Linked DNA regions of Homo sapiens: all the other regions are linked to region 7. Evidence: fine-mapped expression QTL. A gene starts in region 7. Each other region holds a variant in brackets. All regions are shown on one strand. Distances are between the middles of the regions.

Region 1 (4,153 bases), 53 kb after region 7:
GGGGGTCTGTGTGGAGGATGCAGGCCAGAGACCCAGGGAGACCCTAACATGACACAGACCCAGAGAGAAACCTGGAGGAAGCCGAGTGGATGGAGGGAGTAGGACGCAGACAAACCTATGATATTCGCAGAGAAACAGGGTGGCCGTGAAATAAGAGCAGACACCGCAAAACTACACACAGAATCTTTCAATTAAAAGTAGAATAGACATAAATAATTTAATAGAAATGTTGAATATTAGACTCATTTACATCTCACAGAAACAGAATAAAAAGATGCACAGATGAAGAATTAGGGAGGAATGAAAAAAGAAATAGAGAATCAACCCAGAAATTCCAATACCCACTTAATGAGAAGAGAGACCAGAGAGGTCAGACAGGAGAGACCAGCAAAGAAATAACTCAAACAAGTGGTCCAGAACTGCAGACAGGAGCCCAGATTGAGAGAGTAGCGCATGCATGAAAGAACAGAGTAAAAACACCTGTGTCATCCACATCCTCATTGCTGAGACACTTCAGGCAGAGCTCACCAGCAGCCCAGGGGCCAGAGCCACAGGCCCCAGCACTCTCGTGGCAGAACTGGAATGGCTGAGACCTCCCTACAGAACGCTGGAGTCTGCAGGGCGGGAAGTGAAGCCTTCTCAGTTCTGAGAGACATTTCTTGCAGCCTAGAATCCTGGTCCCAGAAAGAAAAGGTCAAGGAGAGAATGGCGACGTCTCCAGACATTGCAGGTCTCAAAGGGTTCCTTCCACACAGGGTAACTCAGGCAGCCCTGAAGGTGAGGAGCAGGGAGACACAGGGAAATGTGGCCAGAGCCTTAGGAGCTGAGGCAGTGGGGGCCTCAGGGACGCCATGGCTGGACCTTCGATGTGCCTGATCGTCCAAGGGTCTTTCTTATTTCCGTTAGGAAGTATGTGGCTAGAACAGTGGTCCCTTCCTAGAAGTCTAAGGAAATAACAACTAAAATGCAACAGCTTCTAACCCCAGAGGAAACGGAGTGCATGAAGGGAAACTTAATCATTTTACAATTACACAGCTCAGCTGAGAATAAGCTCTGCGTGATCACAGGATGGCAACCTGGAATACTGAGGTCGCCACAGAGTGTGGCTATCGCATTGGAGGAGAAGGGGGTGCAGAGATTGTGGGTGCATGCATGTGCTTAGCAGAAAGGTTAGCTCCTCCCCCATCATTGAAGGAAATCAATAGATGAGCCCCAAAATAAACATGAGACACAAGCATGTTCTTTCACAGGAGGCAAACACCAAGAGACAGAGTGACAGCCGCAAGGACCGAGGGTGGAATAAGGAAGCCGCTTTCACCACAAACCAGGCAGTAATGCTGGCTCTTAAAAGCTTTGCAAGCAGTGATTCTTGCCCTTTTGGCCAAGACCAAGTGTAGTACCTGCTCTTAGCCGTTTAAGAATTTTACATATACAAGTGCAATAAAATTTACAAGTAAAGCCTTAAAAATATGTAGAAAGTTACGTTTTAAATAGCAACAAATAATTTGGGTGTTGATGTGTAAAACAGAGCAGGGCTACTGGGCTTAACTGGAATTTGAAGCAGATGCAGCTTATAAAATTTCAATAATCAGTTTCTGAAATTTTATTTTAAAAAATAATTATGAGTAGAGGACACGTTGCTTTTTATTTTGCTGGTAGTTTTCACTACACACAGACTGCAATTTGGGAATTGCAGAAAGAGACTGAGCTGACCAACTTAGAGCTGTGTCAAGAAAAGTTTCCATTAGGTCCTAAAGTCCCCAGAGGCTAGAGGCTAGGGAGGGCCTGCTACAGGGGCCAGCTGGTTGGACACGGCCTGAGCCCCCACACTCGCCCCCAGATGCTGTGGTTCTGCTGCAAAACCAGACCCTCGTTTCCAGCATCCTCTGTTTCCATGAGCAATACTATAAGCCTTGAGCAGAACCAGAGCCGCGTGCACAGACACGGTGTCATCTCATGATTTCCACCTCCTGAACCATGTGTGGGCACTGACGGCAGACTGGAAAGCGGAAAGCTGCGGGATGTAGTCCTTGCATGGACCCCATGGCCAGGACTACCTCAGAACTTCTGAGGGTTATGTTCCAAGTTCATTCCTGCCCCTGCTCAGGCCCCAAATCTGCCTGCATCTGCAAAGCCCTAGAGCTTGCAGTCCTTAGACCTAAATAAGTGGCTCCTGCTCCCACCAGGCCAGGCCAGTTAGGAGAGAGGGTCAAAGTCATAGGTCACAGAGTGATGCAAAGGATGATGAGATCAGGCAGTGGGGCTTCAGTCTGGGGGCTTCCACAGTGGTCCCAGCCTGTAGCCATTGCCTCTGCACCTAGCCAATGCACCACCAGCCCCCAAGACTTCCCTAGAGGCAGAGGAGGTGATGATAAGGGGACGCTGTGAGGGGTCTTCTGGTCAACTTGCCTTTCTGTGGCCTTTTCCCCTCTTCCCAGTGGAGCAAATTGTTTCCCTGTAGGAGAAGAAAAACTGGACGCCTGTAACCCATGGCAGATGAACAAGAGAAAAACAGAAGTTTATTAATCCACACACCTCATGCGTGGGTGGCAAACTCCAGGGGAAGACGCACAAATCTGCAGGAGGTGGCCCAGAACCCTAGCTTATCTTCAACTAAAATAAAGAAAGAAG[A/G]TGGGGGTGGCCGGCAACGGGGAGGTGACCAGAAAGGCAGGTGACCAAGGCCACAACTTGCTGTGGGCTTGTAATAGAGCTTTCTCCTCAACAAGTGTCTCTTGTAACTGAGTTTCCCTCTTCTTCCTGGATCCCAGAGGAGACACCCGGCAGGTAGAGATTCCTTCACAGAGGTAAATTCCCCTTCCAAAAGGGCGACTTCTTAGAGCTTCTCCTGCAGCTGCCATTCCTCAAAATCCTTGTTCAATGAGGCACACTCTGGGATGGGGCCTTCTCTCTCCTGAAGGTCCCACGGGAAGGCCTGGGCTGGGTACCAGACTCTCTTCCAAGCCAAACAACCTATCACCTGGAAACAGCCACTTTTAACCACAAGTGATGAGAAATGCTTTATTCTCTATTTGGATATTTTTAAGTGCCTCTGTACAACTGTCTCTGTCACCAAGCCAGTTCCACTGATCAGAGCACTGCAGGGGACATCAGATCGGGGATCCCCAACCCCCGGGTCATGGACCAGTACTGGTCTGTTGCCTGTAAGGAACTGGGCCACACAGCAGGTGAGTGACAGGTGAGTGAACAAAGCTTCATCTGTATTTCCAGCTGTTCCCCATTGCCCATGTTACCAGTTGAGCTCTCTCCTCTCAGAGTAGTGGTGGCATTAGATTCTCATGGGAGCACAAACCCTATTGTGAACTGTGCACAGGAAGGATCTAAGTTGCATGCTCCTTATGAGAACCTAATGCCTGATGATCTGTCACTGTCTCTCATCACCCTCAGATGGGACCCTCTAGTTGCAGAAAAACAAGCTCAGAGTTCCCACTGATTCTACATGAGATGACTTGTATAATTATATTATAATGTAATAATAATAGAAATAAAGTACACAATAAAGATAATGTGCTTGAATCATCCTGAAAGCATCCCCCCACCACCAGGTCCATAGAAAAATTGTCTTCCATGAAACTGGTCCCTGGTGCCACAAAGCTTGGGGACCACTGCTTTAGGGTGGAGAGCACCGTGCAATCCACATGTGCCATGGGCTCCACAATCCACCCGACGCAATGCTGCTTTTAGGAGTCCAGCAAACATCTACAAAGCATCTGCCACACACCAGGTGCTACACCTGGTACTTGGGTTGCAGAAATGAACAGAACATGACACTCACCTACCGAGAGGTTGAAGGCAGCTGAGGGCAACGGGTCATAATAAAGCAAGTAACCTAGAGCCACAGGTCTACAGCAGGGCTGGAGCAGGAGATTCTGTGGCACCAAGGAGGTCACCAATGCCCCTTCGGTGGGACTTATCTAGGAGCCGACAGAGTTTTCGGCAGTGGCCACGGCTCATTCCTCACCCCACCAGTGTCACAGGTTCTCGGTCTGAGGGCAACCGAGACAGCCCTGCTGGATTCGCTGAACTCACAGGCACTTCCCAGACATGCACTCAGCAGTGCCACTTTAGAGCACCCAGTGTCTGCTCAGATGCTGAGTCCCTGAACAGGAAAGCCTCTTACTTGTCTCTGTAAACC
Region 2 (4,153 bases), 44 kb before region 7:
CTTGTTTTTGATTTTACAGGCTTATAGGCAGAAGGGACTTACCTTGTCTTAGATGAGACTACTTACCTTGTCTCAGATGAGACTTTGGATTTGACTTTTGAGTTAATGCTGGAATGAGTTAAGATTTTGGGGGATTGTTGGGAAGGCATGACTGGTTTTGAAATGTAAGAAGAACATTACATTTGGGAGGGGCCAGGAGCAGAATGATGTGGTTTGTCTCTGTGTCCCCACCCAAATTTTGTGTCAAACTATAATCCCCACATGTCAGGGAAGGGACCTGGTGGGACGTGACTGGATCATGGAAGCGGATTTCCCCCTTGCTGTTCTTGTGATAGTGAGTTCTCACAAGATCTGATCATTTAAAAGTGTGTGGCACCTCCCTGTTCTCTCTCTCTCTCTCTCTCCTGCCACCAAGTAAGATGTGCCTTGTTTTCCCTTCACCTCCTTACGTAAGTTTCCTGAGGCCTCCCCAGCCACATGGAACTGTGAGTCAATTAAACCTCTTTTCTTTATAAATTACCCAGTCTCAGGTAGTTCTTTACAGCAGTGTGTAAATGGACTAATACAAGGTGATTCCCCTAAGATTCCATTTCTGGTATCATAAGGAAAATCAACAGGAAATGAGAATTATTGAAATATAAATTATTACCTAGTGTTTCCATTGAAATTATTAGGAATAAGATGCCAAAAAAATAGTCTCTAGTTTATGAACTTCAAACAACGTTTTTGTTTTGTTTTGTTTTGTTTTTGGAGGCAGGGTCTCTCTGTTACCCAGGCTGGTGGCCTGGCCTACTTCCTTACAAGAATGCCTTAATCTCCCATTTCTGCATACAATTTTCCAGGAATTCCACCCTTTGAACACCACGCTGGGCTGGCAGTAGAACCCACATTTCCAGTTGTGTGGTCTCCACTAACCACACCACTGTCCCTGTAGCACCTGGGTGGCTGCTGCACATCCCATCAGATGACCCTGGAGCTGGGACTCCATCCCACCACCAGCTTCCTGAGCCCCTGCTCTAACATGCACCTCCATGGAGAACAAGTAAGGGAATCCCTCTCTACTGCCAGGTGAGCAATTAGAAGAGGTTGGAGTCCTAGAAGGTGCACAAACAGACATGATCGAAGTGTGAGCGTGAGGAGTGCTGTGAGGCCACTCCTCCACTCATCCACTATGCGGGCAGAAAGAATCCATCAAAACCAGATATCTCGGTCTTCACCTGAAGTCTCCCACATTTCCCTCTGAGCATCCCCCGGGAAGGACAGGAGGGAAAGTCCTCACCTGAGCACTCTGCTCCTGTAGCCAGCAAGGCTGGCCCTTGAGGTGGAGTTCCTGAAGGGCCCAGGAAGGACATGGACATTGTCCTGAGGTGGACAAAATCTTAGGTGGCGACAGCCTAAGTGCTGCTCATGGTATGGGGCATGAAGAAAGTTCTCCTCTTCCACGGGAAAAGCCCTGTAGAGTGTTCTATGGGAAGGCAGAAAAAACCTAAACACCTCTTGAGGACCAAGAAGAATGATGGTAAAACATTCTTAAAACTAGGATTCAATTCAGAGAGAAAGTGACATCCAAAACAATGAAGACAGATGAGATGTGCCGTAAAACGCTGGTAATGACCAAGAAGTTAGGCCACAGAAATGAGAAAGTAAGTTCCTGCACAAAACAACGAAAAATTATTTTTCCTGTTTTAGCTATACCTTAGTTGTAAAAAAGTGCTTCATGTTTCATGAAGAAAATCTATGCAATATTGTAAAGAAAATTAATATCCATAATTTACCAAAATTATTCCTGTTAGGTTAAACGGCAGTGTCTTATCAAAAATGTGCAGAGAGGCCAGGACCTCTGGCTGGCATTGAATACACAGGGAGCAATAAACCTCATCGGCAGGCCCCACCAGTGCGCACGTCCAGATCCTGTCCATGAGCACAGAGCTTGGGTGTGGCAACCCTGAAGGCCTTGTTTAGAAGAACTGAACCTGCCAATCTTCACCTCCTGTAATCAGAAAAGAGATCCTCATCTAACCAAGTGACACTCTCAGAAGTGCCATCCTTCATACTTAATCTCACAATTTGTAATCTTGAAATCTTAAACAAAATGTCCAAGATACAGTGTCATTTGCGTTTTCTCCTATTTTTCATTAAATGTAAAATTCAAGCATTAAGTTCTGAATTATCCCAATAAAGCAGATGGAAATTTCTCCTTTTGCCACAGGAAGGGCAGGTGTATCGGACTCCGGCCCTGGGAGAAAGCCTCCAGGCTGCTCCCTGCAACTCTGGGTCCTGACAACCAGGGCAGGAAATAGCACAGCAAGGCTGAACAGTGACACCTAAGACCAACCCAGTAATGTGGGCAAGACCAGGAAGTGTTACACCACAGTACCTGTGAAGGACAGAATCCAGCAAGAGGGTTAACAAGAACATGAGCAGGCCGGGCGCGGTGTCTCACACCTGTAATCCCAGCACTCTGGGAGGCCAAGGTGGGTGGATCACAAGGT[C/T]AGGAGATCGAGACCATCCTGGCTAACACGGTGAAACCCCGTCTCTACTAAAAATACAAAAATTAGCCGGGCGTGATGGCGGGCGCCTGTAGTCCCAGCTACTCTGGAGGCTGAGGCAGGAGAATGGCGTGAACCCGAGGAGGTGGAGCTTGCAGTGAGCTGAGATCGCGCCACTGCACTCCAGCCTGGGCGACAGAGTGAGACTCCATCTCAAAAAAACAAACAAACAAAAAAAACATGAGCGTAATGCTCGGGTCAGCTCACTGCATGCCACATAACCTGCACCTACCAGTTCAGTCCAGAGTCCATGTAATTTTAGTATTTCATTATAAAGCAAATTTCCTGGTATACTTCTTTTGTTTTGTCTTTTTGAGATGGAGTCTTTCTCTGTTGCCCAGGCTGGAGTGCAGTGGTGTGATCTTGGCTCACTGCAACATCCACCTCCCAGGTTCAAGCAATTCTCCTGCCTCAGCCTCCTGAGTAGCTGGAATTACAGGCGATGGCCACCACACCCAGCTAATTTTTGTATTTTTAGTAAAGATAGGGTTTCACTATGTTGGCCCGGCTGGTCTCGAACTCCTGCCCTCAAGCGATCCAACCGCCTCAGCCTCCCAAAGTGCTGGGATTACAGGCGTGAGACACCGCGCCCGGACCTTTCCTGCTATACGTTTTAAAGGTATTTAAAGTCATAGGTCAGGAAAAATTAGAAACCTTTCTTAAGCCAGGTATCCCAATTTCTCATCAGGAACACTGCATCACAGCAGGGTGACCATGTGCAGGGCCAGCATGGGACTCAGTACAGACGGTTTGCCGTTATCAACCACAGGGCACTGGCGTCCCTGCAGTCATGGGCCCAGAAATACAGCTCTTTGTGAAGATGAGGGGAACATGGAAGGAGCTGTGCATGACCCTGACCCACCCTCTCCAAAGCCCACCCCCAGAACAGTTCTGGACAAAGGCTTAGCGCTGGCATTCAGTGTCTTAAAGCTGTTCTGGGGGTGGTGACGTGGTGAGGGAGGACTCTGGGAAGAGTGAAAGCACAGGCCCCAGGCCTCTTCTTGGCATCGCCATTGGCTACCACCTCCCACCTTCCTGAATACTGTGAAAATGCTGTGATCCTGGGAACACAAAACACAGTGCCCCCAACAGGCTAAGGTTTCAATTACGTACAACAAAAAGGCACAGAACAGCTTAGTCTTCTTTCATCCCTTCTAAATTTGGGAACTCACAGTGAACTTATCTTTAAACACACTGAAGCTATTGAGAAACTGGCCATTCTGGAAAACATTGGTTGATGAACCCAGTCCTGACATCCAAGTCAAACTGTGAGACCAAATCCCACAGTCATCAGATGAGACCCATCAGGCCACAGGAAGGCCCGCAGCCGTGTTCACCAAATTGCAGGGTGCCAGGCCAACGACCCTTCAGGGTGTGGTGGGGCTAGGCGGCCATAGCGAGACCAGGCTCCCACCAGAGGGGCTGCTGATCTGACCCCCAGCCTGCCTGAACACAGTCTGACTCAAAAAACTAGCTCGGGTGACCTAGGCATACCTCAGCACACACAAACATGGAACCCAGAGCCATGCAGTGGGACCTACGCCTACCTCAGCACGTGTCAACATGGAATCCAGAGCCACACACTGGAACCAATGCCCACCTCA
Region 3 (4,153 bases), 61 kb before region 7:
TTGGAGGTTGTACTGAGCCCTGATCATGCCACTGCATTCCAGTCTGGGTGACAGAGCAGGACCCTGTCTCTAAAAAGGTTTTTTAATAAAAACAAAAAATAAATGGTCACACATTCCTAAGATGCATTAGGCTTTGCTGGGAGATGGCCCTTCTAGTTCACCATTGAGCTTAGCATTTGCTGCTGTTAAAATTAGAATAACCTTTATTCAGGATGTGCTCCTCCAAGATGAAACGGATGTCCGATTCTGGGAGCCGGAGGAACACGCTGCAATGCACTTTCAGACTCTGCAAGGAAGAGTGGGCAGGCACACAGAATCTCAGGAAGACGGTTCAGGGCGGCGGGGACATTCATCATGTGTTTACCGTCGGCTCTGACAGCCCGGCTTGAAGCTTCCTTCTAAGGATAGAGACTGAGCAGAGACTCCATGTGTCCTGGGCCTCAGTGGATAAAATTAGAATATGCAGGAGCCTGGGCAAATGAACCTATGACCCTGGGCAGCTGGCAGACTTTAAAAGCGAATTCCAGGTACAAGTCTGTTTTTTTAAACATCTGCCCAAGGCTGCCATGGACCAAATTCCTAAAGATACCTTGTTGCCCTAGAAATGTCTCCAAAACTCAATACCCCACTAGTTTTCCTACTCTGTCTAGAGACTTGGCTCCCCCCTCCCCCAATTACATGACCTTCTTCCATCAAATCCACTCTCCACACAATGAAGAAAACAGCACCTAATTCTGATGAAAACGTCTGGCCATGGGACAAAGCCCCGCAGGGCCCAGCTTTGGCCTTAATGGAAGGCGGGGTTAGGGGTATGACACTAGCCCCCCGCAAGAGCTCTGCTTCACCTCACACAACCAACCTGGTCCTCACTCTGGGTGAGGTAGAAATGTCACTGGCTCTACTTCCTGTTGATATGGGGACATTGATCCTCTCTAGGGTTGAGAACCAGGATTTAGACCGAGAAATTGACTTTATGGCGTCAAGGGAGAAACAAGCAAGAGAAGAGCAGAAAATGAACAAAATGAACAGGAGGGGACCACAATGGACAGTGGTTCACAGATGAGGGCCTGTTTCAGAAGAAAGAAGAAGCCTCTTGGGGGTGGCACACAGGTGAGAAGAGCCATGGGTCAGGGCACCAAGGAGCCAGCCAGGTGAGCAGGACTCTTGGCGGCACAGGTGCCCCAGGATCTGCAAGAGGATTCTATGAAAGCGCATGCTTAAAGACGCTGCAGGTGAGCCTGCCCGAGAACACCTCCCACACGAGTTGCCCCACGCTCCCCAGGTTTGGCCCCTCCACTGGCTGTTCGGCAGTTCCAGCCCTGAAGCCCCTCGCCCCTCCTCACAGGGCCTCCCACCATCCGCAACCCTGTCCTCACCCACCAGCTTCCTCAGCAAGCAATTCTTTAAAGTGAATCAATTTTAAAGAGTATTAAGAATGTTATAGCATAGATAGCACTCGCGTTACAAAAATGAGAAATCCAAGAACTGAAGTTCAGAAGGCCCACACCAACCACACCCCCCGACTTTTCTCATGTAAACGGGAGGGCATTTCAGAACCCCACTGGCACATGCTGCCAGGGCAGGGCTCCTCCCTTCTGCTTCCAGTGCCTTCTGCTCCCTGGGCCCAGTGCTCAGCCATGGAAGGAGCCAGTGCAGCTGTCACACGGGCATCTCCTGTGGGCATCTTGTGAGGGGGGCTGTCATGCGGTGGCTGCACAGGAAGCAGCCGTGGTATCTGGGGCTGGGTGGCAGCCGGCACGGGACCCAAACCTGGGCCCTACAAACCCTGGGGACCATGTCCCAGTGGAAGCACCACCCTGGGCCAAGACCCTGAAACACTAGAGAAGCTTTGGGAAGGTGCTTTCATGTAGAATGGAGGGAGACAAAGTGGCTTCCTGGCACTTGGGTGGGAGGTGGCAGGGGCTGCATGCAGAGCTGGGATGCAGGCCTGAAAGCTGCATCTCCTCCACCAAGAGCACCCCAGACCCCGACCTCAGCAGCAGGCAAGGGTTGGGGAGGATGTGCCTTCAAGCTGATCGTGTTTTGAATACTTAATAGAACATGCTGCAGTCAGGCCAGGCTGAGGCCGGGCCCACAAGTGGATCCCGCAGAGCACAGCTCAGATCACCAGAGGCCCAGAGTAGGGAGTCGCCCAGGCTGCACTCGTGTTGCTGGCACAGGCCACGGCCTCCTGAGACGGAACTCGGGCCACCACACACCTTATGAGGGATGCCACCCATCCAGCCA[A/G]GGGACGCCCAGACTTGACAAAGACTCCCCAGAACCACACAGCACCAAACCCCATCAGGGCCCAGCAACTTCAAAACAAGCTCAAGGCCAAACGGCTGTCTGCCTTGGTGCAAAGATCCCAACTTCAGCATCTGACCCCACACCCCACACCAGAGGGGGACCTCCCTAGGGAAATGCCAGAGGTCATGGTGGCAGGTGGCGCCTTCCACAAGGGAGCCCCAACGCTGTCACAGTGGCTCAGACCTGGTGCAGGCATGCCCCTTTCCTGCCGAGACTCTGGGGACGTGGCCTTGGCCTCGAGCCTGTCTGTCCTCAGCAGGCTGTCCCTGGTGGTCTGTGTGAGCTTCCCTGCACCTGTGATACTTTGCCTCATTCCTGGGAAATGCTGCATAAATACCCACAACTGAATGAAGGTTGCCCTTCCTCCGCACCTCAGTCTGCAGTCTCCCATCATCTGGTGTCATTCCACCTGCCACAGAACAAACTCATTCCAGGCGTTTAAGAGCGGGACTCTTGGACCTCACTCAGCATCTATAAAATGGGCACAGCAATGCCGGCATTGCAGGACTGTGCTAAGGCCCCAGAGGGAGGCAAGGGCAAAGCACAGGTGTCTGACGGGTGTGGCGCAGGTAGGCGTCAACGCCTGCTGGGGCCCAGTAAGGCCAGGCCGCAGGCTGGTGTGGCTGCTCTAAGCCCTGCCACCTGCCCCCTCCCTAAACAGCAACAGGAGCTCAGACAGATGTCGCCTGAGCCCCTCCCAGCCGACTGCAGCAGCAGAGGCAGCCGAGCCTCCTCCAAAGCCCACAGGAACAGGGAGGCAACGTGGTCAGGCAGCCCTGCCACTTGTCACTGTTTAAAAATTAGGTCATTTTTTAATAATCTAATAACAAGTACATAACCTAAATAAGAAGTACTTAAAGTTTCATTGTGCTCACTTCTAGTTTTATTTCTGAGCTGAGGTTTTTTGGCAGAAAGTTTAGTTGAATCCTCAAACACAGCTGGCTGTATGAGCTGGAGTTTTCCACCTCAGGGAACTGAAATATATTAATTCAATCAAAAATAGTTTACTTCCTCAGGGGAAGTGAACTGATTTTGTTTTGTTTACCTCCCTCCCACCCCAGCCTTTCACTGTGCCAAGTCATTGCCTAAATTTAATAGCTTGACATTCTGGGAGGCCAATGGCTTTCACCTGCGGAGGGAGTGGGGCGGTCAGCAAGGGGTGCATTTTCAGCTCACCGTGCTCAAGTTGAGAAGGAAAGAGACGGACTTGACACCTCCTAAGGCTTTCAACCCAGTGGAGTAGAAAGCCCCAGACACTGCAACATTCCTGCCTGGCAAGAGGTCCCCTCTGTGCCTGAACTGCACTGAACTGACTCCACCCCAGGCTGTGCCCGCTTCACAGTTTGGTAAACATTGACTTCCCACGATGCCCACATGGAGGCTGCACCTTGAGGAGGAACAGGATACACGCACGCAGCCAGAGAGCAGGACACCCGCGTGAGAGGCAGAGGCGCTTCAGAGATGGCACCAGCAGGACCCCAGGCTTCCAGTTGCTGCCTCGCTTCCCCGCGATCCGAGGTGGAGCTGCTGAGACAGCAATGGCATGTCTAGGAAGCACCACAGGTATACAAGCACTGTGTTTGTGAATAGTCAGTACTCCTTTCTAGTATTTTTTGACATACTCCAGAAACATTAAAAACAGAGGTAAAATTCACCCCATTCTTTCATTTAAACATAACTATTAAAATTTATCATTTATCACATATCTTACTGTGCTTCTTCACAGCAGCGAGGGGGACACGCTCCAGCTCCAACGGGAACGTGTCCGCATCACCAGATGACCCGTGTTCTTGCGGCAACACAGCAGCAAAAGGTGGCTTTGCCTTATCAGAGGCCGCCAACACCA
Region 4 (4,153 bases), 33 kb after region 7:
AATTGTATGTTCTGGTGTTGGCCTAACTGTTACTAAAAGTGCGGCTGTAGAAAAAGAAACCTCAGAGGCCTGTTTTGTGGCTGAGACGAGAGCATGAATATTATTTTGGAAGAAACCATACCCAAGTTAGGCCCCATGAATACAGACTCAGCAGTGGGCGGCGGCATGGCCAGTGCTATAAGGAGCACAAGGAGGACACAACTCCTTCACTGAAAGGCCAGTTTTTTAGGGTTCTGCACGCATTTATTATTTTTGAATCAGTCACTCATCCATTAACAACAGTTTATGAGGAGCCTGACTTGCCCCAACGCATGCTAAGCCCCACCGGGTTGGTTTCCTATTCCCGGACGGACGTGGGAAGGAGCCACTCCAACCCTGACGAGGACCAGCATAGGCCCTGCACTGGAGCTGGCCATGGCGAGGGGGTGGCCACTGCTCCAGGAGCGAGTCCAGGAGGCCAAACAGTGACCCCGTAGCAGTCGCTGCCCCATGAGGCCAGGACTTGACTCATAACCAACACCTTCCCGGATTTTTTTTTTTTTTGAGATGGAGTTTCACTCTGTTGTTCAGGCTGGAGTGCAGTGGTGTGATCTCGGCTCACTGCAACCTCCACCTCCCAGGTCCAAGCGATTCACCTGCCTCAGTCTCCCGAGTAGCTGGGATTATGGGCGCATGCCACCATGCCCAGCTAAGTTTTGGATTTTTAGTAAAGACAAGATTTCACCATGTTGGCCAAACTGGTCTCAAACTCCTGACATCAAGCAATCTGCCCACCTCAGCCTCCCAAAGTGCTGAGATTACAGGAGTGAGCCACTGTGCCCAGCCGCCTTCCCTGGTTTTTCTCCTACTTATAATTTAAGATCAACCAGAGAAAGCACAGTGTGCCCCCCGCAATCCTGCAGGACCGTCTCCCATTTTCACTCCCTGGCCTGCCTGTGAGTCTCTGCCAGATACAGTGATGGATGATAGATGATAGATGATAAACGGATGAGCTGGGAAGCGGAAGGAGGGCAGGTGGCAGGGCTGGAAGAGAGGTAGGCATGGGCGGAGGGACGAGAAGTCACAGGGCAACAGTTTAGAGGTCGGTGAATCTGGGTTGAGGGTATAATTGGCAAACAGGAATTATCTTTGTTATTCCTGTACTTTCTCCATACACTGGAAATTATTTCAACCTGAAAACCTGAAAAGCCCATGAAGGAAAGAACAAAGTAGGCTGGACGCCAGCGAAGGGGCCAGCCTGGCTCTCTCCATCTTGCTCCTGCCCATTTCCGCAGGCCGCCAGCATTCTCCCATGGCAGAGCTCTGGGCTCACAGCCTTAGAGACCCAGGGCCCAAATGGCAGGTTGTGTTTCCTTTGTTCCTGGACGTTCTGGCCAGAAGATCCCCATGGAAGGCCTTCGATGGCTCTGTCTTGGGTGAGGCCGACTCTGTGGGCTGTGGCCAGGGTCGGAGGCTCCGTGGTCAGGAGCCCAGCCAGCTCCCAGGCAGCCCTGCTGCCACCCTAGGCTCTTGGTGATTTGCCAACTGCACTTGTCCCCCTTCCAGGGAGCACCTGATGCCCCTCCCTGACCCTCCTCAGCCCTCCCTGAGTGGTACCATTCCCAGCTTCAGAGGCTGACACA[G/C]GACCTGGGCAGTCCAAGCCCAGCCAATCCCTGGACTTTGCTGGGCCACTCTTTTCTTCTGAACTTGAGTGAAAGGAGGCCCATAGAAGAGGGCAGGGCCCGCATCACTTAACCCGCAAGTCCTCTGGGACACTGTGGTCCTGCTTCCTGCGCCAGGCATCCCTGGGCTCAGATCCTTCTTCAGGTCCTGACACCGCCTGGGAGCTTGGCCTGGGGACTCCTGTGAAAACCACGTGGCACAGACCACATTGATCGCTGTGCCTGTTTGTGGCTGTTTGTGGGCCAGGGGCACCCACCTCATGCAGCAGGGGTGAGTTGTCTCCCGTAGTATGAGGACAGAATCGTCTGCAACCTTGCAGGGGACTCACAGCGTGCGATGGCCGGCGGGCGTGGTCAGGACCACCCAAGCCCAGATGCTTTTCTCGCCCCCAGATCCGAGGACCCGGGAGACATGTGGCTAGGAACATGTTTCATGTGTCGTCAAAACACTTTCCTCGGCACAGTCCTTTAAATTACTGTGAAAGCCACTGGGATATGTGACTGATTTTAAAGCCCAAAGTGCCACAAGCTGCCAGGATCATCCTCTGGGGCTTAACAGCTTCGTTGTGGCTATTGAAGGAAAATTGATCGTAACGAGTTGGAAAGTCACCAGATGTCCTCTATGACACTGAGCGCTGGAGACCAGGCATAGACCATGCTGGGTGCACCCCCGCCCCTGCCCTCCCACCAAACACCCCGCCAGGTTTGCTGAAGTCCACAGGAGACTGTTCAAGGCATCGTTCCAGACCCCTGTCCCTCGGCAGGTGAAGTGGCAGCACATGGCTGCCTCGCCATGAACACCCACATTTCCAGCTGTGGGTACTAAACTCAGGTAAAAATCGTTCCTCTCCCGAACTGGACCTTGCTAACAAACACATTCGCTGCCCAGACCACACTGTATCTTGAATCATGGTCCTTCCCCTCCTAGTTTTGGTCTCTTCCGTTGGAGAAGCGTGGGCCGTGTGGCCTCAAAGCGCCCCGTGGCTGGAGCAGTTAGAAACAGCCACTGTGGCTCCGTGGTTGCCATCGCCCTGCACTTCCTCAGGGTCCTTCGTGAGGCGACCGAAGGCCTCTGATGGGCACAGGGCTGTGGAGTGCAGCAGACACTAATGGAAATGGGATTGGCAAAGACACAGGACAGCAGCCCGTGGAATGCAGCTCTAACCCAAGCGACCTTGAGCTCTGATGCTGCTGGCACAGCCGCTCCTCTCAGGGAGCAGCTACCGAGCCTCAGAAGAGCATCTGCCACAGCCCCAAGCAGAGACTCCAGCAAGGAGAGTGGATCCATGGGGCCCTGTGGCCCTGGCAGTGTGGACAATGACTCAGCTCAAGACATGGGTCTGCTTGGGACCCCTCCCTCCATGGTGTGGACGCTACTTCCCCACAGCACATGGGACCAAGGACATGACGGTGCCAGGTACCTTGGTGCCATGCACCGAACGCTGTGTCCCTCACCTGGTCCCTGGTTGGGAGCATGGACTTGGCATCTCTATGTCCCCGCTGAAGGGATATAAGCCCCAGAGTGACCGGGCCATGTCTGGTCGGGGCCAGGTGATGGCTTCCTCATGACACCAGCATGCCGGCTCACGTGTGCTTGAGTGCCAGAGTCGGCTCCCAGAGGGCCCAGGACTCAGTACCACCCCCAGCACGGAGCCCAGCTGGGCACAGGTGATGGAGGTGCCCTCCGGTGACATGAGTGGCAGTGCCATTGAGGGTCTCAACATGCCAGTCAGCATGGCGGGGGTCACTCAGGCATAGCGTGTCAGTTGTGGGGAGGCTCCGTCCATAGATGCACTGCCTGAGGCCCGTCAGGCATGGTGGTCCTGGTCCTGTGTGTTTACTCCTCCTGTCTGAGGGCCACTCAGGGCACTCCGTGGTGCTCCCCAGAAGCCTCTCCTCACTTGCTGGTGCAGCCTCACCTGGGCTGCCTGTACTCCCTCCTCATGTCTCAGTCCCTGTGTGCTTGGCCCTGTGCTCACCTGTGCTCCTGTCAACACTGCAGGCTGGGAACTCAGTGTCCCATTCGCTGCCTGGTCACCCACATCCCAGGCTAAGTGCAGGTTCAGGAAGCGTTTGATGAGTGGCTTTGCAGTGTTCGTGCCTGGGTGTGTTGTGAGCAGCACTGGGCTCTCAACTCCACTGTCTTCTAACTCTGTTCTCTCCATTCCGCTTGGCGTATCTGTCCGTGGTGCTGTGGGAGCCTGCAGGTTGCCTCTCACTGCTGCGGGGGACCCGCTTGCCACGCGGCACCTGCCCATGCTTCCCACCTGACCGCCGCCCACATGCCGGATGTGCTGCCGCTCCACTGTGCTCACCAGCATTCAGGGCTTGACTTTACGGGCTTTTCAAGACACGTGGGTGTAAAGTGGTGTCTCACTGTTTTCATCTGCATTTCTCTCCTTTGCAGTAACTTTGAGGTTATGAGCACACACATGGTGCTTGTGTCTCTTGAACTGGCTTCCTGTGGTGGCTATCAAATGACCACGGATGCA
Region 5 (4,153 bases), 340 kb before region 7:
TGAAGGACGTAGAGGAGAAGCTGCTGCTGCAGGGGCCTGTAGCTCCTGGAAGCCCGTTTTGTCCATGATTTAGCAGGAATGCATTACCCTTCCATGACGAGGCACAGCCCACAGAAACCAAGGCCATTCTTTGAAGAAAAACATGTCTTAATAGCGTTTACATTACGTAACAGTGTAATACAAATAATAATTTATTATTAGTAATAATGTGAAATTATTTACAGTACCGTAACCCTAACTCTCACCCCTAATCCTAACCCTAACCCTAACCCCTAACCCTAATCCTAACCCAAACCCTAACCCTAACCCAACCCTAACCATAACCCAACCCTAACCCTAACCCTAGCCCCTAACCCAACCCTAACCCAAACCTAACCCTAGCCCCTAAACCTAAACCTAACTCCTAACCCCTAACTCCTAACCCTAACCCTAACCCTAACCCTAACCCCTAACCCTAACCCCTAACCCCTATCCCTAACCCCTAACCCCTAACCCCAACCCCAACCCTAAACCCAACCCCAACCCCAACCCGACCCTGACCCCGACCCCTAACCCTAAACCCTAACCCCTAACCCTAACCCTACCCCTAGCCCGAACCCGAACCCGAACCCTAACCCTAACCCCTAACCCTAACCCCTAACCCTAACCCTTAACCCTAACCCTACCCCAACCCCAACCCTAACCCCTAACCCCTAACCCTCACCCTAACCCTAAACCACATGAGCAATGTGGGTATTATATTTTGGGTGTCATGTGTGCATTAGGAATGCTGCATTTGTGTTCCGACACTGCAGTTGGCCCCTGCAATGCAGCCCCTCGCCTTGACTTGGGAGAATCTCGGTGCGCAGGATTCAGAGGGGCTTTTGGTTTCCCGTTTTCCACACTGAACCGTTCTAACTGGTCTCTGACCTTGATTATTAACGGCTGCAACCGGGAAAGATTTTATTCACCGTCGATGCGGCCCCGAGTTGTCCCAAAGCCAGGCAGTGCCCCCAACGTCTGTGCTTAGGAGAATGCTGCTCCACCTTTACGGTGTCCCCCAGGTCTGTGCTAAGCAGAACGCAGCTCCGCCCTCGCGGTGCCCTCAGCCCGCCCGCCCGGGTCTGACCTGAGGAGAACTCTGCTCCGCCTTCGCAGTACCACTGAAATCTGTGCAGATGAGAACGCAGCTCCGCCCTCGCGATGCTCTCCGCGTCTGTGCTGAGGAGAACCCAACTCCGCTCTCGCAAAGGCACGGCGCGCCGGCGCTGGCGCAGAGAGGCGCGGCGCGCCGGCGCAGGAGCTGTTCGGGAGACGCGGCGCAGGGCATAGACGCACGCCTCCGCGTCCCCGGAGGGGAGGGGTCGCTGGGCGGGCGGGAGTGAGGCGCGGCGCAGGCGCAGGCGCAGAGACGCACGTCGCTGGGCTCAGGATGGCGGGGCGTGTTGCAGGTGTACAGTTGCACGCCGCCGGGCGGGGAGCGCGGGAATGGCGAGGTGCAGGCGCAGAGACACACGTCCCCGGCGGCGCAGCGCACAGACGGGTGGAACCTGAGTAATCTGAAAAGCCCGGTTCGGGTGCCCCCTGCTTGTACCCGGGCACTACAGGACCTGCTTGCCCACGGTGCTGTGCCATTGCGCCCCCTGCTGGCAACTAGGGCAACTTCAGGGCCCTCTTCCTTACAGTGGTGTCCAGCGCCTCCTGCTGGCGACGGGGCACGGCAGGGCTCTCTTGCTCGCAGTATACTGGCGGCACGCCGCCTGCTG[G/A]CAGCTAGGGACATTGCAGGGCCCTCTTGCTCACATTGTAGTGGCAGCACACCCGCCTGCTGGCAGCTGGGGACACTGCCGGGCCCTCTTGCTCCAAGTGTAGTGGCGGCTGCTCCCCTGCTGGCAGCTGGGGACACTGCCGGGCCCTCTTGCTTGCAGTGTAGTCGGGGCACGCCCTCTTCTGTCCGCTGGGGGCACTACAGGATCCTCTTGCTCAGTGTAGTGGCAGCACGCCCCCTGCTGGCAACCAGGGCACTGCACGGTCCTCTTGTTCATGGTGTGGTGCCCCTACGCCACCTCCTGGCAGCTAAGGACACTGCAGGGCCCTCTTGCTCACAGTGTAGTCGTTGTTCGCCCCCTGCTGGCAGCTAGGGACACTGCCGGGCCCTCTTGCTGACACTGTCGTGGCTGCACGCCACATGCAGGCAGATGGGGACTAAGCAGGGCCCTCTTGCTCCCGGTGTGACGGCTGGCGTCCCCTACTGGCCGCCTCCTGCACCACTTAAAGTCAGAGCGCCAGTTATTAATCCCCATCAGTTCTGTAAATGAAAACTGAAAAGGAGCTATTACTGGGGAGAGCTGATGTCCCAGTTATTAACTTGGAAGAAAGATTTTCACCAAGAGGCAGTACAAAGATGGAAGATAACTTCATTGAAAAGAAATACAGTGTAAAGAGCTTATTGTAGGAAAATAGGGAGGAGTGGGTTCATAGTGCATGAAAACAGCCTAAGAGTCCTGTGCAGGGAATTTTATTTTGGACTTCTTCACATTCCTGCCTCTGTCTCAAGTCTATGCTTGTTTTCCTTGGTTTTCCTGCTACTGCCTTAGGTCCCTGACTTGCCCCACTTAGGCTTGTGGGACCTCCTGTTGATTGAGGTACACGTGGGGTGATGAATCTGAATCCACTCTGGCACCAACCTCCTTCCCGCCATCCCAGGCAGGCTGACAGCAGTCACGTTTGTATCTACTGCACCTGCCTCTTTTGAATGTCTTTCTCTGCCCTAATCTGTACTTATGGTGCCAGGTTTCTCTTAGGAATGTCCCCTTTGTCCTTCTTATCAGCATGTAGCTAGCAATATTCTGACATTTTTATTGCAGTGAATGATGATTGGGGCATCTTAAGAGAAGTTCTAGGGTGTTTCTGTGTAGGTACCTCTTCTCCCTCCTAAGCACAATTGACAAGTGCCCATCCACTCCAGCACTGGAGATGCTACTAATATGTGCATTTTTGGTGGTCCCTCCAGGTGAGCCTTCACAGACTTTCCCTTTTCCAGGAGCTCCCCCTCCTGTTCACGTCTAGCTAGCTATCTACTCTAACAGAGCCCACTATCCTGTGTCTTTCCCAAAAATAGTGAGGGAATGATTAATTGGAAACCATAAGAAATCATATGCATGTAGATGAAAACTTTACAACTTACACAAATAACCACTCAAAATCATCCTTACACTAAAAATGCAAAACTATACAATTTCTAGAAGAAACTATAGAAGAAAAGCTATGTGCCTTTGCGTTTGGTGATGAATTTTAACAAATGACACAGAAGGTTGATATACACAGAAGAAATGACAATGTGGATTTCTTAATATTTACAGTTTATACTCTGGAAGAGACCTTGTTAAGAGAACCAAAAGACAAGCCACATATTGAAGAAAATATTTGCAAAATACAGATCTGAGAATTTGTATTCAAAATACATAAAAAATTGTTAAAACTAAACAATAAGTTAAACAGCCCAATTAAAAATGCACACAGATCTGAACAGACGCCTCACCAAAGAAGATCTACAGATGGCAAGTACACTTACAAAAAGATGCTCAACATACTAGAGAACTGAAAACCACAAAAAGATAGCACAGCTGGTCTATATCTCTTAGAACTGCTAAACTCTTTAACAAATGACAAATTGCTGGAGGAAAAACAAGAACTCTTTTCATTGCCGGTGGAACACAGTGTATAAGACCAAAATATGCCACCCCAAAATATAATGGTAGGAAACCAGAATATGCAACCCCAAAATATGTCCCTTTGGCTTAAGAATTATTCCAAGCTAATTATTTTGAAAAAAAAAAATGCTAACAAAGGAAGTTGTGAAAACAGAGAAGTTACACTTGTGTAAGGAAAATTTACATCTATAAAGGAAATCACCATTTAAAAGCTACCTCTCTCGACACCAAGAAGAGAAGGATAACTAAATCACTAAAGAGTCTTATCAATGGAGAATGCATGGACTTAAGTCTGTATAATGAACCTTACCCTTGTCTAATGTGCTTTTGCTGGTTAACTCCCCAATACTGCACCTCAAATCTTCTTTCTTTAAGTTGAAGACAGTATTTATGCTTGAATTGAAAGCCACCTGTTGGAGATTTACTCATTTTTCCCTGAATATCTCCCATGTAACCATAAGGTA
Region 6 (4,153 bases), 160 kb before region 7:
CGATATGGCAGGATTCATGCCGACTAATGGAAAACACACCAGATGCTGGAAAGAGATAAAGGAGAGCGTTACTGCAATACTGTGTAGAAGAAAGGCCATAGATGAGAAAACACAAAGCCAGTGTTGTCCCCTCGAAGACACTGGAGCCCGGGACACAGAGCTCGAAAAGCCTCCTTGGGGTCACGCTGGAAGATCCTCAACTCCGGGACATGGCGTCGAGAAGAGAAAAGAGGTGAGAGAAATTTCCTTGGAGACCAGCGCAGCAACGAGGGCACAAGGGAATGGTCCCACACAGATACATGACACCTGCACATCGACGACACACATGTGACACGTGCACAACACATGCATGTGTATTACATATATGACACACATATGTGACATGCACACATAACACCTGGATACCTGTGGCACATGCATTATGTGACACACACAGGTATGGGACACACATAAAATGTAGCATACATTACACTATGATACATGACAAATATAAACAAAGTTTCTGAAATAAACGTTTGATCTTTCCACACAGAGTGGACGCAGTCCCAACAAGGCTGCATAGAGTCTGGCTCTCTCCCTGGCTGCTAAGCGGCGCTGGGGCCATCAGTGAGGCGGCCGGTCCAGGTCCAGGCCTGTCCTTAATGAAAGATGAGGCGGAGCAGCCCCGGGATGCCCCCAGCACCGAGATGCCGGGTGTGACCCATAGGACTGCGTGTAGGGCAGAGTGAAGCTGCTCAGAAGCAGATTCTGCCTGGTTGGGAAGCAGCCTGAGCTGCCCCCAGGGGCAGGGGACCGCTCTCTGGCCCCCAGGCTGCCTCCATGGTCCTCAAAGAGGACTTTCTCCCACCGCGTCCATGCCGCAGCCCTCACTTCAGACCTGCCCTTGAACCTCTGCCCAGGGTCCAGGTGCCTCAGACCCTTCGTTCTTGGGCACAAGTGCAGGCCTTACTCCTTTTCCTGCACCCAGGCTTGGTCCCCGCCCAGCCTCTGGCCTGAGGACACTATACACACAGAGCGCAGTCTATGTGGAGGCCAGAAAGTGGAGGTCAAACACATATGTCTACTAATTATTTGAATTTATTTCTTATTCTTCCTATTTATTTATTTAGAGAGGGGATCTCACTCTGTCGCCCAGGCCGGAGTGCGTTCATTGGTGATCATGGCTCACTGCACCCTTGACCTCCCAGGCTCAAGCAATTCTCCCACCTCAGCCTCCTAAGTAACTGGGACCACAAGCATGCACCACCACACCTGGCTATTTTTTTAAATTTTGTAGAGATAGGGTCTCGTCGCATTGCCAAGGGTGGTCTCTAACCTCTGGGCTCAAGCAGTCCTCCCACCTAGACCTCCCAAAGTTCTGGGATTGCAGGAGTGAGCGACTGCACCTGACCACAGTTTTCTTTGTTAGCAGTCAAAAAAGACGAAGAAAGAACGTGTTCAGCTGTAATTCCTAGGAAAAAATATGTTCGGGCCGGGCACAGTGGCTCACGCCTGCAATCCCAGCACTTTGGGAGGCTGAGGCGGGCGGACCACCAGGTCAGGAGATCAAGACCATCCTGGCTAACACGGTGAGATCCCGTCTTTACTAAAAATACAAAAAAAAATTAGCCAGGCGTGGTGGCGGGCGCCTGTAGTCCCGGCTACTCGGGAGGCTGAGGCAGGGGAATCGCTTGAACCCGGGAGCCGGAGGTTGCAGTGAGCCAAGATTGCGCCACTGCACTCCAGCCTGGGCGACAGAGCGAGACTCCGTCTCAAAAACAAAAAAAAAAGAAAAGAAAAAATATGTTTGGTTTCATTATGATACTTCTTGAACAAAGATGATCTGAAAAAAAAGAAAACGAAAAGTCACCCGAAGTAAATTAAAAGAACAAAACAACAACTCAGGAGGCTGGGAGGAAAAGCC[G/A]TGTTTGGAAAACACAGGAAACCGTGAGGCTTTTCTGCTGCGTCTGCCCCACCCTACACAAGCTCTGGTGTGGGACACGTCCACGCAGAGGCCCTTCTACGCAGCGGAGTTAGGAGACCTCGGAAGACCCAGATATACAGAGCATGCCTGAACATAAACGCAGATGCTTGCATTTGAAGCAGAACACTGAAAATGAAACATAGCAGAAAAGCAAACGTGTCAACGTCCTTTGAGAAAGAGTAAGCACAGGGGTGTGGAGGAGAGCCGGGCCAGCCTCGGACTCAGCCTCCCTGGAGCCCGAGACGTCCACTTCTGTGGGGTCCCGAGGGAAGCGGATGTGGTCCTCTCCTAGCCAGCCACATTTGCCTTTAAGTAAAAAGGCAACTGACAATCTTTCTCAAGTCATCAAAAACTCAAGGAAGATCCATCCAAACAATAACGACAAAAATCAACCAAAGAAATACGCCAAGAAAAAGGGTGGCAAAGTTAAAATTTACTTCAACAGGCTGGGCGCAGTGGCTCCCACCTGTAATCCCAGCACTTTGGGAGGCCAAGACAGGCGGATCCCCTGAGGGCGGGAGTTTGAGACCAGCCTGACCAACATGGAGAAACCCCGTCTCTACTAAAAATACAAAATTAGCCGGGCATGGTGGCCCATGCCTGTAGTCCCAGCTACTCGGGAGGCTGAAGCAGGAGAATCGCTTGAACCCGAGAGGCAGAGGTTGCGGTGAGCCGAGATCAAGCCATTGCACTCCAGCCTGGGCAACGAGCGAAACTCCGTCTCAAAAAAAAAAAAATTTCACTTCAACAGAGAAACTAAGACTCAACCAATGTGAGCATTATAAATAAAGAGAATGTAAACGTTATGAAGTTGAAACAGTAAGTTGGAGTTTTCTGAAGAGAAAGCTTTTTCAGGGCCCATACCTCTCCTGCCTTTATAGATTTTCTTTTCCTCGAGCTACCAAAAGATGCCTTTGTCCTTGAGGTCTGGTTACAAGTCAAGGTATTTTACGATATCGATCTTTATCACTTTTTTTCTTGGAACAGAAGATAAACAGGTACAAATGTTTCATTTTTTTAAAGACGCTTTGTGTTCTCAGCTCTTTCATTTTTTTTTATTTCTTCAGTCTTCTTTAAGAGCACCAACTGCACCCATGCTATCTTCCGTCATCTCTACAGCTACCATCTTCTCTGAGGTCACTGCAGTCGCATTGCTGTTTTTCGTGTCATCCTGTGTGACTTCCTCAGATCTGTTCCACGCGTCAAGGACTGTTTCCCGTCAATTTATTCTACTTGTTTGAGCTTCTCTGTCAGCTAACATGTTTACATCTGGAAGGTTTTCCTCTTGCATTTATTTCCTGAGCCATCATAGCTCATTCTTCCCTCACTCCGCAAACTGCCCCTGGGCCCTTACACCCTTCAGTTCTTTTCCCTAGAAGGGCTTAACTGGACTCTTACTTTGGAGCGATTTTGTTGTTTCTTTGGATTTCTTCCTTCTTTGCCCTTTTCAGTTTTGATTTTTGTTTGTTTGTTTGTTTTTTGAGATGGAGTCTCAGTCTGTCACCAGGCTGGAGCATAGTGGCACAATCTCGGCTCACTGCAACCTCCGCCTTCCGGGTTCAGGTGATTCTCCCACCTCTGCCTCTTGAGTAGCTGGGGCTACAGGTGTGTGCCACCACGTCCGGCTAATTATTTGTATTTTTAGTAGAGATGGGGTTTCACCATGTTAGCCAGGATGGTCTCGATCTCCTGACCTTGTGATCCACCTGCCTCAGCCTCCCAGAGTGCTGGGATTACAGGTGTGAGCCACTGCGCCCAGGCTTGAAACATTTTAAAGACAAAAAAAATGTACAAATAATTTTATAAAACAGTCATATTCCCACAACCAGAATTAACAAAATATTTTGCCACGTTGGTTTCTAGTCCTTTGGAAAGGACTCTGGCGAGGTAGAAGGATCCTTAAAACAACACAGTTGAAGCCTCTCCCACCCGGGGCGGCCAGTTTGAGGTATTTGGTTTGTATTTTTATATGACTGTTTTTTAAGTTTCACATACCTGTATATTTGCATTTATCCGTGACATAAACCTGTCTTTTGAGCATGTTACTGATGTGACGGGCACTGACCTGCATTGACGACTCTGCTCCTTCCTGTTCTCACAGTGCTGGTTAACCCAAAATCCATCTGGTCTGTTTCATTCTACTAGTTTTTGGCTGTTCACACCTAGGCTTCTATTTATCTAAAGTATCCT
Region 7 (4,153 bases):
ACTTTTCCGCATGTTAGAAATTTTTCAAAGTAAGAACTTAAGGCCAGGCGTGGTGACTCACGCCTGTGATCCTAGTACCTTGGGAGGCTGAGGCGGGCGGATCACGTGAGCCCAGGAGTTTCAGATCTGCCTGGACAACATAGCAAGACCCCATTTCCACAAAAACGGTTTTTTAAAATTAGCCAGGTGAGGTGGTGCGCACTTGTAGTCCCAGCTACTACAGAGGCTGAGAGAGGAGAATAGCTTGAGCCCAGGCAGGTTGAGGCCGTAGTGAGCCGAGATTGCGCCACTGCACTCCAGCCTAGTAAACGGGGCAAGACCCTGTCTCAAAATAAAAAATAAAAACTTAAGAAAAAAAAGTGGGTTTCAGGATTCATTAGGAAAAATGGGAGAACATAGGAAGACTCAGTTTAAAATTCTCAAGGCTCTATCCAGAAACAATAATATGGCTCATCTTTGACCAATATTAGTTATTTGTAGCTTCTGCAGTTAACTCTGTAGCCACATATAAATTCTCATCATTACATTCAAGAAGAGAGCTGTTTAGAGTAACTATAACATTCTGAAATTAAAAAAAAAAAAGGCACGTAAGCACTAACGCTACCTAAAAGAAATTTCTCAGACAAGTTCAGATAGTAACCATATTTAAGCGCTTAACATAATCGGCTCCATTTTCCATGAGTTAGGAATGGAATTTAACGTTCATAGAAAATCTCTATCAAGAAGAAACAACTCCAGACCCTAAGAGAAACTCTTCTGCTCAGAAACTATTTCCAAGTCCTCGGAAGACAGGTACAAATCCTTATATTCCATTCGGCCTTAACAGCATCAGGAGGAAGTTGCCACACGTTTAACAGAAAGAGATATTTTATGATCCAGAATGCTGGATTTCTGACCTAAATTTCATTGTACATGAAAAAGAGCACTGCAATGGAAAAAGGGAGGGGGGGGGAGGGGGTGGGGGAGGGCACGTCTAAGGCACACAGGGCCCACCTGGGAGCCCTTTCAATTACAAAATTCTAGACATACCAAACATATCTCTACACTCGTCAGGTAAAGGCCTTTCAGTTTTCAGTACAAAGGACTTCTGCCGGCTTCCTTCAGAAAAATCAAGAATTTAAGAAAATACTTGTTATGCAAACAAACATTTAGCCCACTTAACATTGAGCTACGGTCGTCCAAAGCTGCTTAGTGTCCGCGAGGAGGCCGTCCGGATGCGCGATGATTCAGGCCTTCTCCGCCAGCTCCACCCGGGACGCGAGCACCCGGCGTGGACCTCTGCGTCCCGGGCCCACGACGCCCGCGCCGCGGGGTGCGCGCACTGCGTCCCCGCTCTCCTGGGACTGCGCCCCGAGTAACACGTGCAGGGGGCACTGGGTCCCCTGCAAGCGGCGAGAACGCCGGCAGCCCTGGCCAGTTAAGCGGGGAGTGGGTCCACGCGGACCACAGCGGCAACTCAGCCCAGGACGAGCCTCGGGTCAAGTTCTCCGACTCCGCACTCGGGCACCTAGCGGGCCGCGCCCCGGAGCTACGCGGCCCCAACCTCACCTGCCCGCCCAAACTGTGCCCCCAACTACCCGCACCTCCACCTGCGCGCCGCCCACCCTCGCCCTCCACCTGCGCGCCCCCGGCCTACTAGCACTCCCCACCTGCGCACCCCCTCACCTGCGCCTGGGCGGCGGCGGCGGCGGCCGGTGGCGGCCCCCCACGCAGGCCGTCCTCCTCCTCGGGGGGCTCGTCCAGCAGCACTCGGCCCCGGCCCAGCTTCCACATGGTCAGGCGGGCTCCGGCGTCCCTCCGTCCGTGCGTCGGGCTGTGGCTCCGCGTCCCTCCCGGCCGCCGGACGCTCTGCCTGCGGCTCCTGCGGGACGCGGGCCCAGTGGGCCGGGCGGGGCTAGGCGGGGGCGGGGCACCCCCAGAACTAGGCCCGCCCCCTCCCCACCAGGCCCGCCCCAAACCCTCCCCAGGACCCGGCCCGCCCCCAAACCATCCCCAGAACCAGGCCCGCTCCAAGCCCTCCTCAGGACCAGGCCCGCCCCAAACCCTTCCGAAGACCAGACCCGCCCCCAAACCTTCCCCAGGACCAGACCCACCCCCAAATTCGACGGGGCTCCGAATCCCATCCCCCACAGAAAGGTCAACCCCGGCCCCCTCCTCCCAGTGTGGTCCCCGCCACCGCCCCGGCGAGACCCTCGCCCTTCACTGTTCTACTGAACGACGTCCTCACCCCAGGCTACCCCGTCACCTGGTCCCCCCACCTTGACCCCCACCTACCCGCCCCTAGCTGCTTCCTCACCCGGAAACGCCCCCATCCTGAGCCCCCACCGAGCCCCTAGCCCTGCCCTATCCCCGGTTCCCTGGGTCCTCCTCTACCCCCGAGCCCCCACCCGGCCCCCGCAAATTCCCCTCTCCCGGTTCTCTCCTTCTCCCCCGCCGACCCCCACTTACTCCCGGACTGCCCCCTCCCCCCACCCTTTCCCAGACCCTGGCCGGAGGGCGTGGCCACGTCCGCTCGGGTCACCAAGGCAACGGCCGGGAGCGCAGTGCGCATGCGCGCCGCTGGCGCTCAGGCCGCGGCAAGGCTGAGGGGAAGGTGGAGGGGGCACAGTCCGCGGAGCGGCGCCTGTACCCCAGCGCTTCAGGGCATCCCTCGGGGCCTGGGCGCCGGGCATCCGGGACTCATCCCCTCCGGCGCCCGAGGTCGCGGGATAGTGGGGGCGCCGGGAGGAAGCCTCGCCCAGCCCTGGTGGGCGGTGGGGCCGCTGGGGCCTGGGGCGCCGCGGGCTCGGCCCGGACTGACGGCGGTGGGGGGCGGGGATGGGGCCGTGGTGCCGGGCCGCGCAGAACCCTTGGGACCCCCGCGGCGCCCAGGTTGGGGCTCAGGGCCCGGAGAACGTTTTCCCGCGTGGCTATGGCTTTGTCAGAATCAGGAGCGGGAGAGGCGCCCACAGATTCCTGAGGGCAGAACCGCCTGGTTCCCAGGCCGAAAGGAGCCGGCGAGGCGACCCCCGATCCCGGGACGGAGCCGCGGGAACGGGGGATTCTAGGCGTCCGCTCCCGCCCAGCAGGTTAATTTTTCCCGCGACGCGCTTCGTATCGCTTCTTACACCAAATATGTATTCATGTGTTCAGTCATGTAAAAGCGCATTTTGAAGGAGGATCCAGAACTATGAGCTCCCTTGAAAACTGCAAGCTTCGTAACTTTACGACTCTTAAAAAAATGAAATGTACATTTTGAGTTTCCCAGAAGTGATGAGCAGCAAAGCTTTTAAGATGAAAGGGGCTCTGAACTGCCTTTGGGAGATGCCGGCCAGGATCCCGGAGAACCGAGGGGGTGGCGCCCGTGCCCAAGGCCTGGGGGGACCTGGGGCCCTGGCGCGGGACGCACAGGGAGGGCGGGGGCTGGGCCTGGCAGGAGCCCCCAGCCGAGTGGGAAGAGCCAGATAATAACCTAACGATACTAACCTAACTATACCGTCACCCAGAGAGGAGGGCAGCACCCCTCCCACATGCCTCCCTCCCCCGGTGACCGCTAAACCTACCGGCCGCAAACATCACGAAATAGAATTAAACACTGGCGCCTACTAAGGACCACTCCACCCAGTACAAACTAAATTTGAGAGTTCATCTTCACGCAAATAATAAGAATGTTAAAAATGTATATATGCTCCTTTTCAAACAAGGCCTAATAGGCCTGGCCTCCTGGGCTAGGGGGCTTAGAAAATTGCAAATGCAAGATGGCATGGTGTGGCTCCGGGGTGCTGTCAAAATAAGCACATTGCAAGCACAAACTGATGAAAGTCAAAAACTATCAAACAGAGGTTGCAAAACAAAGTCAGGATCCAAACACAGCCCATATAAAGACGCTACAAATAAAACACAGAAAACCAACTCAGAACACTTGGACAAATAACACAAATCCCCCTGGCTAATGCGAAGGAACACAGGGCTTATGCCCAGACAGCTGGCTTCCTCTCAGTCTAGCAACATCCACTCCATGAATTGTCATTAAACTGTAATCCCCTGCAAATCTATGACAATCTGGAAGAAGGTGAGCCTTGCTAAATAAAAAAGCTAACTTACTGAATATTTTAGACATTTAGCTTTCTTCTGAAGAAGAGCACAGCTAGTCAGGATATCTACAACCTAAAGG

Which allele goes with the higher level. Positions count from the first base shown, and alleles are read on the strand shown. Sizes are in standard deviations (SD) of each study's normalised expression. Not every link is listed here.
With allele G in place of A in region 5, the expression in testis of the gene that starts at base 1,850 in region 7 is lower (small effect, 0.34 SD a copy in GTEx).

Evidence for each region. PIP is the estimated chance that this variant, and not a neighbour inherited with it, causes the effect. A credible set is the group of variants that fine-mapping cannot tell apart.
Region 1: its variant is the best candidate, but not a certain one, in a credible set for the expression of TDRP in whole blood (INTERVAL, PIP 0.88).
Region 2: its variant is the best candidate, but not a certain one, in a credible set for the expression of TDRP in whole blood (INTERVAL, PIP 0.60).
Region 3: its variant is the best candidate, but not a certain one, in a credible set for the expression of TDRP in whole blood (INTERVAL, PIP 0.67).
Region 4: its variant is the best candidate, but not a certain one, in a credible set for the expression of TDRP in whole blood (TOPMed, PIP 0.61).
Region 5: its variant is the best candidate, but not a certain one, in a credible set for the expression of TDRP in testis (GTEx, PIP 0.52).
Region 6: its variant is the best candidate, but not a certain one, in a credible set for the expression of TDRP in whole blood (INTERVAL, PIP 0.59).

What each region holds. Positions count from the first base shown.
Region 1 is chr8:595,677-599,829 of GRCh38, forward strand. No RefSeq gene overlaps it. Among named protein-coding and RNA genes, the nearest start is that of TDRP, 53 kb to the left of the region's middle. The variant A/G (reference allele first, on the strand shown) is at 2,632.
Region 2 is chr8:498,502-502,654 of GRCh38, forward strand. The region is part of intron 1 of TDRP (testis development related protein); the gene reads right to left. Among named protein-coding and RNA genes, the nearest start is that of TDRP, 44 kb to the right of the region's middle. The variant C/T (reference allele first, on the strand shown) is at 2,493.
Region 3 is chr8:481,922-486,074 of GRCh38, forward strand. No RefSeq gene overlaps it. Among named protein-coding and RNA genes, the nearest start is that of TDRP, 61 kb to the right of the region's middle. The variant A/G (reference allele first, on the strand shown) is at 2,248.
Region 4 is chr8:576,074-580,226 of GRCh38, forward strand. No RefSeq gene overlaps it. Among named protein-coding and RNA genes, the nearest start is that of TDRP, 33 kb to the left of the region's middle. RefSeq lists enhancers at 1,340-1,841, 1,842-2,341. The variant G/C (reference allele first, on the strand shown) is at 1,623.
Region 5 is chr8:205,023-209,175 of GRCh38, forward strand. It overlaps LOC124902051 (a long non-coding RNA gene), which reads right to left and starts at 258. Exons shown (of 2, transcript XR_007061161.1): 1 at 1-258. It also overlaps the pseudogene RPL23AP53. RefSeq lists silencers at 1,800-1,879, 2,004-2,226. The variant G/A (reference allele first, on the strand shown) is at 1,746.
Region 6 is chr8:385,360-389,512 of GRCh38, forward strand. No RefSeq gene overlaps it. Among named protein-coding and RNA genes, the nearest start is that of FAM87A, 4.3 kb to the left of the region's middle. The variant G/A (reference allele first, on the strand shown) is at 1,904.
Region 7 is chr8:542,985-547,137 of GRCh38, forward strand. It overlaps TDRP (testis development related protein), which reads right to left and starts at 1,850. Exons shown (of 3, transcript NM_001384899.1): 1 at 1,666-1,850. The coding sequence starts at 1,773. RefSeq lists an enhancer at 2,829-3,329.